Regions from separate parts of the Homo sapiens genome. Here regions 1 and 3 are each linked to region 2. The links come from fine-mapping of genetic effects on gene expression. A gene starts in region 2. Each other region holds a variant in brackets. All regions are shown on one strand. Distances are from middle to middle.

What was found.
Region 1: its variant is fine-mapped to the expression of CEP68 in whole blood (TOPMed, PIP above 0.99).
Region 3: its variant is fine-mapped to the expression of CEP68 in blood mononuclear cells (TOPMed, PIP above 0.99).

What each region holds. Positions count from the first base shown.
Region 1 is chr2:65,017,368-65,019,867 of GRCh38, forward strand. It overlaps SLC1A4 (solute carrier family 1 member 4), which reads left to right. Exons shown (of 8, transcript NM_003038.5): 6 at 704-898; 7 at 1,178-1,312. Among named protein-coding and RNA genes, the nearest start is that of LINC02576, 12 kb to the right of the region's middle. The variant T/C (reference allele first, on the strand shown) is at 1,261.
Region 2 is chr2:65,054,715-65,057,374 of GRCh38, forward strand. CEP68 (centrosomal protein 68) reads left to right here and starts at 1,702. Exons shown (of 7, transcript NM_015147.3): 1 at 1,702-1,814. RefSeq lists an enhancer at 1,295-1,534 and silencers at 1,635-1,744, 1,825-2,164.
Region 3 is chr2:65,077,816-65,080,656 of GRCh38, forward strand. CEP68 (centrosomal protein 68) reads left to right here. Exons shown (of 7, transcript NM_015147.3): 5 at 53-149. Among named protein-coding and RNA genes, the nearest start is that of CEP68, 23 kb to the left of the region's middle. RefSeq lists an enhancer at 1-94. The variant C/A (reference allele first, on the strand shown) is at 1,522.

The sequences.
Region 1 (2,500 bases), 37 kb before region 2:
GGTTTTCCAAATATGTTAAAACTTTCAAAGGACGGCAGCACGTCGTTTCATTCACACATTTAGTTTTGCCTCTACTGCTCACTTCCTCCCAATCTGGATGGCTATTTATATAACACAGAGGTGGGAGTAAAAAAAAAAAAAAAATTAGGGAAGGAAGTTCCTCTGGCCTAGACAAAAACCTGTTTCTCAGCTGCACCAACTAACCTCTGCAGAGCCCGCAGAGCCAGCTAGAGGGAGCAGGTACTGTTCTTATGGTTATCTACTTAGTTATTCTTCCAAGCTCACAGAGCCATTTCTGGGTTTTGGCCTAAAAGAAAAAAAAATCATAGTTTACCATTTACTTTTGGGAGGGGAACACTCAAGAGAGGAGATGCACATGTAGAGAAACTAGTTGTTTGTTCTCTCGGGAACGTTTTGCACCGGGAGGCAATGTGCAGTTCTTAAGAAACTTGGAACACGTGAATCCAAGTAAATGACAGAATAGGTAAATGAAGGCAGTCATATTTTAAGTATCTTGGGAGTTGCCAAAGCCTCATGTTGTGACAGAAGTTTTAAAGTGATTCTGTTTTTTCCCTTATTTCAAGAGAAGAAAGCCAGAAACGAAGATGGTGCTAATTGCTCTGTTCTGGGGTCTGAGACAAGACACATGTTAGCCTGCCTCGGACTGTTGTCATGTCTGGCGGTTTGTTTTTCCCATTTCTAGCTCAGCGACCCTTCCCTCTATGATGAAGTGCATTGAAGAGAACAATGGTGTGGACAAGAGGATCAGCAGGTTTATTCTCCCCATCGGGGCCACCGTGAACATGGACGGAGCAGCCATCTTCCAGTGTGTGGCCGCGGTGTTCATTGCGCAACTCAACAACGTAGAGCTCAACGCAGGACAGATTTTCACCATTCTGTAAGTTCCTCATTCTTTCCCTGGCTCAAAACTGAAGGCTTTTCTTGTGATTTCCTTTGAAAAACCAATCTCACCACAACTTGGTGTCTCGCTCATAAAATGAGGACAGTGGGGATTCATTACTTGAAGAGCGTGTGTTGACTCTCAAGGGCGTAGCCAGCAGAGCCTATGGTGGGGCGGTTTTTAGTTTCCAGCCACATTGCAGCTGCATGGTCTGCATTTCTCTGTGTCCACTCCACGCTCTATGTTAATGGCTGGCCCTGCTCTGCCATCCCTTAGAGTGACTGCCACAGCGTCCAGTGTTGGAGCAGCAGGCGTGCCAGCTGGAGGGGTCCTCACCATTGCCATTATCCTGGAGGCCA[T/C]TGGGCTGCCTACTCATGACCTGCCTCTGATCCTGGCTGTGGACTGGATTGTGTAAGTAACAAGTCCTGAGAACACCAAAAAGAGTCTGCACTGAGTTCCCTAGGAGCTTAGCACTGCTGGGCCTGGGCCATGCAGAGAAACTTCAGACACACTCCAGCCTTGTGAAGGAGGCTACAGTGGAGCTAAAAGGGCAAGATTTAGAGCTAGGAAAAATTAAACAATATGAGAGTCACATGCCCCCAAACATCCAGGAATGACCATGAGATGTCATTACCAAGAACTTGCTTATAGCATCCAGTAAAGCAGGGGTCCACAGCTGAGGCCCTCAGCGCAGGCCCAAGGGACACGAGGGTCTATGGAGTTGCTGACTGCATAGGAGTAATAAGTCGATGGAGCAGTGATCCTTTGGGAATGATTGTCCCTGGCCTGGAAGATTCTAAGGAGTGATTTCTGTGAGGGGAGGGAGGATGAACCATGCTGATGTGAGTGACTTGGGCTTGGGCTCAGCAGAGGAGGAGGTAGGGAAGAAGGTGTGATCCAGACCACATCTCTGGGGCTGCTGTGAAGACACAAAACAGTTTCTGTGCATGGATTCCTTGAGTCACATGATACCTTTTGCAGGCATGAATAATATCTATTTTATAGGGAAGGCTGCCTGAGGTACTAAAGTTGAGACAGTAGAGCCTGTGGGTAAGAAAATGAGCCCTGGAGCCCAGGTGCCTGGATTGAAATCCCAGATTTGCCATCTAGTAGTTGTGTAATGTGCACTGTGTGTGCTTTGGTCTGCTCATCTGTAAAATGGGAATGATCATAGCACCCACACCAGGGTTGTGGGGAAGATTGAGCGAGTTAGCACGGGAACAGCACACAGAATAATGAGCACGTGGTAAAACATTCAATTCATGTCAGCAAAGAAAGACACTCCAGACCAGGTTCGTCACAGGCAGGGCCTGGCACTGGGCTCACGGACTGGCCTGCTGCAGGTGGGAATGGTGGTTTTTCCAACTTGAAGGGGCTTCTCAGAGCAATGAGGGTAAAATCTGCAAAAGAGACCTGCATTGCGCAGACACCTCATCAGAGGGAACTCCGTCCCTGAGCTGGCCAGCTGGACAGGACCAGAGCTGACAGAGGCCCCCTCTCCTTCCTCACCCAGCCACCTCCTGTGCGTGGAGAAGAGGCATCAAAGAGGTGCTTGGCCAGGAACAGGGAAACAGGGCACCAAGCCGGCTGCCCAGTGGA
Region 2 (2,660 bases):
GCTAAAGAACCATCTGACCCAGCGGACTGCAGACAATTCCCAAAGGAAAGTTTTCCCGTCAGGCAAAAACAAAAGCTGCTCACAACACAAAATTACAGAACATCAGAACCAAAAGGAACCTTGGGACTCCTTCATCCTATCCCCTCTCTTTATAGATGAGGAAACCATACAGGATATGTACGCCTGTTTGGACTTTGTACAGTTCTCTGTCCAGCAGGGGTGACTTGGCTGTGGGATTAGGTGACTCCACTGGAGGTCTTCTGTGTATAGAAAAGATCAAGGGTCACAAACACAAATGCCTTCAGGTAGGCAGCAAATGTGTGAAGGCTGGCTGTTACTTAATGGACCAGTGGTGGTGGTGGGATTCAAATTCTTATTAAAAAACAAAAGCAAACAAACAAAGAAAAGCTATGCGATGCCCAAATAAAACCATCTGTGGGCTAGCTGCTGCTGTTGTCCAAAGTTTGTGGCCCCTGGGTTAGACAAAACCTCTGAGCTGTCCTGACAGGTCTGGGAAAACCAAACAAGTCCTTGTCTCCTAAACTACCTGGGACTCAAGAGCTCTGTAGGAAAAAATTTGTACCCTGCACCCAGCTGGGGTTGACATTTACAGACGCCTGTTTTATGAACTGGGGAGATATTCAGTTGAAGCCAGATTGCTGAAAGTGCTGCTGAGAGAAAATCATCAGAAGGGAGGGCCTCTTCCCCACGCCACCCTGGTGGTAGTTCCTCTATGCCTCCGGATTCTGCTAAGCAGTAAAAGCTAAAGGGCAGTGTCATTAAGCTCCTAGGGGATGGGATGCAGTGGCTCACACCTGTAATTCCAGCACTTTGGGAGGCCGAGGCGGGAGGATCGTCTGAGTCCAGGAGTTCAAGCCCAGCCTGGGCAACACAGCAAGACCCCATCTTTGCAAAATAGATAGATAGATAGAGATGTATGAAAGTTACTAGGTCCCATGCTGGCAGGGGAGAGAGTGAGCACCCTGGCCTCCCACAAGCTGCCTCCCACTTCCCTCCGACTCCATCACCGATTTCCCATCAGAGCAGGCTGCTCAGAGTGGCTAAGTAGCTACCAGTTCATTTTCCACACCCTTCCCATTCTCCACGAGCCAGAGCTCCACCTCCCCCCAGAAGCTGTCTTCAACCACCCGGCCTGGGGAGCTCCCCTCAGCACTGGCTCCCCGCCCCGCCTCGCAGCACCTGTTCGGGCCTCGGTCGCGCCGCCGGGTCTTGCAGACGCGAATGTAAACAGAAACACAGTGAAAGGCGTTCGGAGAGCCTCGTGACTGCGGCACGGCGGCGAGCCGGGAACATCAGTGCGTCCAGAGCAAAATGAACGAATGTACGCATGACTCCTGGAGCGACCTTCACGAGGGAAAGCGCGCCCCCCGGCACCCACCCCTAAGCGCCCCAAAATGACCAGCCTTTACACAACCCAGCTCGCAGGCGAAGCTGAGGTCGGAGCTCCAAAAGCGAGGGAGGACAGCCGCTGAAGAAGTCCCGGCTTCCCATAGGCCAGGACGAAGTAGGGGGCGGGCTCATCTTGCAGGAGCGTCCACGTATTGGTGGAGCCGCGGACTTAGAGCTGCGATTCGCTGCGCGAAATTGCCGAAAGCCCTCCCGCGGAGGGAGAAGGGGCGGGAAGAAGGGCGTGGTCAGCGCGGCCGAAGGGCGTGGTTGGCGCTCGGTCCTGCCCTGCGCGTTTTGGGCTGCGGTTGGAGGGCCGCAGTTGCAGTCAGGGTCCGCCAGCTCGGGGCCAGCGCATGGGGCTGCTGAGACCGCTCCGGACGTGCGAAGCGTTCGCGGTGCGGTAGGTAGGCAGTGTCCCGCGTGCGGGTGCTGGTGTCGGGGGTGCCGCGGCGCTGGGGGCGGTGGCCCGGGCTAGATCCGCGCGCGCGCCCGGCCCCCTCCCCCGCGTCTCTTCGGTGCCTGCGGGGCCCTTGCGGTGCGGGCCGTCTGGCCTCGCGTCCCCGCCGGCAAGGGCACAAAGGCTCCCTGGGGGGCGGGGGCGCCTCGTGCCTTCGCCTCCATCTTGCGAGCGGAACGGCGTGTGCTGTGGCGGCCGAGGGGTCGGGGCCGAGGCGGGCGGCTGGGCTTGGGAATGCCCGGGCGCGGCGAGGGAGTGCGCGAGTCCGCGCATCTGGCGGCCGAGCAGCTGCGCCGCTGGTCGGCCTGGGCCCCGGGGGAGGTCACTTTCCCTCAGGCCTCTCCCGGGCGTGGGCTGTTTACCCAGCTCCCCAGTCGGGGCTAATGCAGCTCGGGCCTTTCCCCCTGGAAAGATGGAGACCAGTGATGTCTTCTTATCGCCGCGCCCAGATGCGGAGAGAAAAAATCAAGATGTCTCATTTTTTTTGCCTCGGAGGGCTACCCTTTCTAACTGTCATCACTAGAACAGTTCTCAGCAGCCTGGGGACGAATGTCCAAAACCTGTTCCAGGCCCTTGATGATTAGTAGGTTGGGTTTAGTGTATTGTTTGTAACAAAAATGAGCGGAAGCCTGCCAGGGCAGATTGGACCTCACTGGGAATTCATCAGGACCACGAAGGGAGGTAGCGTTTGTAAATAATCTAACAGTTCTCAGATCTAGGGTATGAAGAGTGTTGTGTTAAAGTGTGTAACAAAGGTTGTTGGGTCAGTTTGCCTTGGGTTTAGTTGAAAGAT
Region 3 (2,841 bases), 23 kb after region 2:
CAAAACAATAGTAACGAAGCTTCTGCCTTTTCTTTTTCTGATACGCCTTAAGCAATTTAAGAAAGATATAGATGAACATCAGTCTCTGACGGAGAGTGTCTTACAGAAGGGGGAGATTCTTCTTCAGTGCCTGTTGGAGAACACCCCAGGTGAGATGCTTAAGGTTTTGGATTTAGCCAGAGCTTAATCCCTGTCAGCAGCAGGCCCAGGGACCGCACTATCCCTGGTAAGGAGCTGGTACCACAAGAGCCCCTGCCCACACCCACTGCCCGAGATGCCCCATGCCCCATCTGCCAGCTCCACGCGTCGCTGCCCATCACTGCCCCTACACACCTGCTTAGAGGCAGTCATGGTTATAAAACCAAGCCCATTACAAATTAGGCATTGAGCCTGCAAGAATGACGCTGTCTTTTGCTTCTGCTTTTGTATTTTTCTGGTGGTAGTCTGGGTAGGAATCCTAGTATTAATCCACCATCCTTAGTTTGTGGCTAGGGTATTTAGTGGGTATCCCTTTGGTTCCCCACCTTACCTAGCCCAGGTTGAATTCCTCTCTGATTATCTGCCTTGTGTCCTGCTTTGGGGAAATAGTTGTTTCAGAAAAGGATTGTATTGCTCAAAAGTATCTGAGGACAGTCAGTCTGTCCTCAGGGAACAGATTGAATGAAGAACTGATGAGAGGGGACAGGGTGGCAGTAGTGTGCAAACCAAGCTCAAGCCCCTTTTTGTTTTGTTTTGCTTTTGAGATGGAGTTTCGCTCTTGTTGCCAAGGCTGGAGTGCAGTGGTGCCATCTTGGCTCACCGCAAGTTCACCTGCCTCCCAGGTTCAAGTGATTCTTCTGCCTCAGCCTCCTGAGTAGCTGGGATTACAGGCATGCGCCACCATGCCCGGCTATTTTTTTTGTGTTTTTAGTACAGATGAGGTTTCTCCATGTTGGTCAGGCCTGTCTTGAACTCCCTATCTCAGGTGATTCGCCTGCCTCAGCCTCCCAGAGTGCTGGGATTACAGGCGTGAGCCACTGCACCCAGCCACTTGAGCCCATTTTGTAGGATGGGTTCCCCATTTAGGAAAGTGAAAATCACAGACCTCAGGCATGTATCTAAGCATGCTGGGTGCCAAGGATTTACAGTTTTCATTGTCTTTACAGGACGAGGGCATGGGGGATGAGGATATGATAGGGAGGATGAGCTAAGAGAATGGTAGGGTAAAGCCTTGAACTGATGGCAGCCCCTAATTTCCTGCAAGACTGTAAATCAAGTGCTGACAGCCTGCCTATATTATGCCTCATTTTACATTTTTGAGTGAGATGGGATTTATACTGGAATACAACCGCCGAAGCAAAGCTGGGCAGGTCCCACGGGCTTGAGAGGCAATGAGGAGGCACTTTCCTGACCAGCATGGTGGGCAGGTGCATACCGTGAAGGGTGTACAGCAGGATTTCTCAGCCTTGGCGCTTTTGCCATATTGGCCGCATGATTTTGTGGGGAATTGTCCTATGCATTGCAGGATGTTTAGCAGCACCC[C/A]TGGCCCCAGTAAATCCCTGCTTCCCCCACAGTTGTGACAACCCAAAATGTTTCTACACATTGCTAAGTGTACCCTGGGAAGAAAAATCTCTAGGGTTGAGAGGCATCAGTGGACAGGGACCACTGAATAGTTTTCAGCAGGTAAGTGATTCTCTAGTGTGAATTATATGAGCTCTTTGCAATCCCCTGCCCTTTTAAGGCCTTTGTTTTGGCTCTTCTGGCATTTTCACTAGGGTTCTTAGATTTTTTATTGGGGCAGAAATTCCATGTGCCAAGCTCCTTTGCTGCATGTAATTTACACCAGCATTTTACTGAAGCAGTTGGCACATCAGTGTTCTCCATTTAATCACAGCCCTGTGAGATGGATAGTTGTGGATTTGCCACAGGCCACAGGAGAAGTGGCAGCCTGGCAGAGCCCCTGGGCACTGGCTTTCCGCAGCTTCCCAGTGTCTGGAGGTGCAGAGGCCTGAGCGGCTCCTCTCTTCACAGAGGCCATGTGTAAAAGTAGGCCTCTAGTCCGGACACGGTGGTTCACGCCTGTAATCCCAGCACTTTGGGAGGCCAAGGTGGGCAGATCACCTGAGATCGGGAGTTTGAGACCAGCCTGACCAACATGGAGAAACCCCGTCTCTACTAAAAATACAAAATTAGCTGGGCGTGGTGGGGAGCACCTGTAATCCCAGCCACTCTGGAGGCTGAGGCAGGTGAATCGCTTGAACCCAGGAGGTGGAAGTTGCAGCGAGCTGAGATTGCGCCATTGCACTCCAGCCTGGGCAACAAGAGCGAAATTCCTTCTCAAAAAAAAAAAAGGCCTCTTAAAAGCTTCAGGTTTTTTGACCTTCATTTTAAAATCAATTTAATAATACTTTTCTGTGCTTAGTCCCACTTTGCTCTCTCAAGAGGTTTTTTACTGGCTTTGGGGTTTTCTTTGGTTTTCAGATATGTATCCAGGCTCTTTCAGATTGACACACAGCCCTTCCCCATCCATCTGCTTGAAATAATCAGGAATGTGGCTGTTTCCCCCTTGAGACGTCAGTGTCTGTCTCCAGCGGGTGCAAAACTTAACTTTTCTTCCGCCAGGAGCATGCTGTCAAAAGTCCATAGAGCCAGCCTACAAACATGTTTTGTTCCAGTCCTTCCCAACTTCTTTTATTTGGCCCCAACCAAACATTCTGACAGTCTAAATAAAAGTTCAAAAGCGTCCGTGCGCAGTGGCTCACGCCTGTAATCTCAACACTTTGGGAGGCCAAGCGGGCAGATCACCTGAGGGCAGGAGTTCAAGACCAGCCTGGCCAACATGGCGAAACCCCATCTCTACTA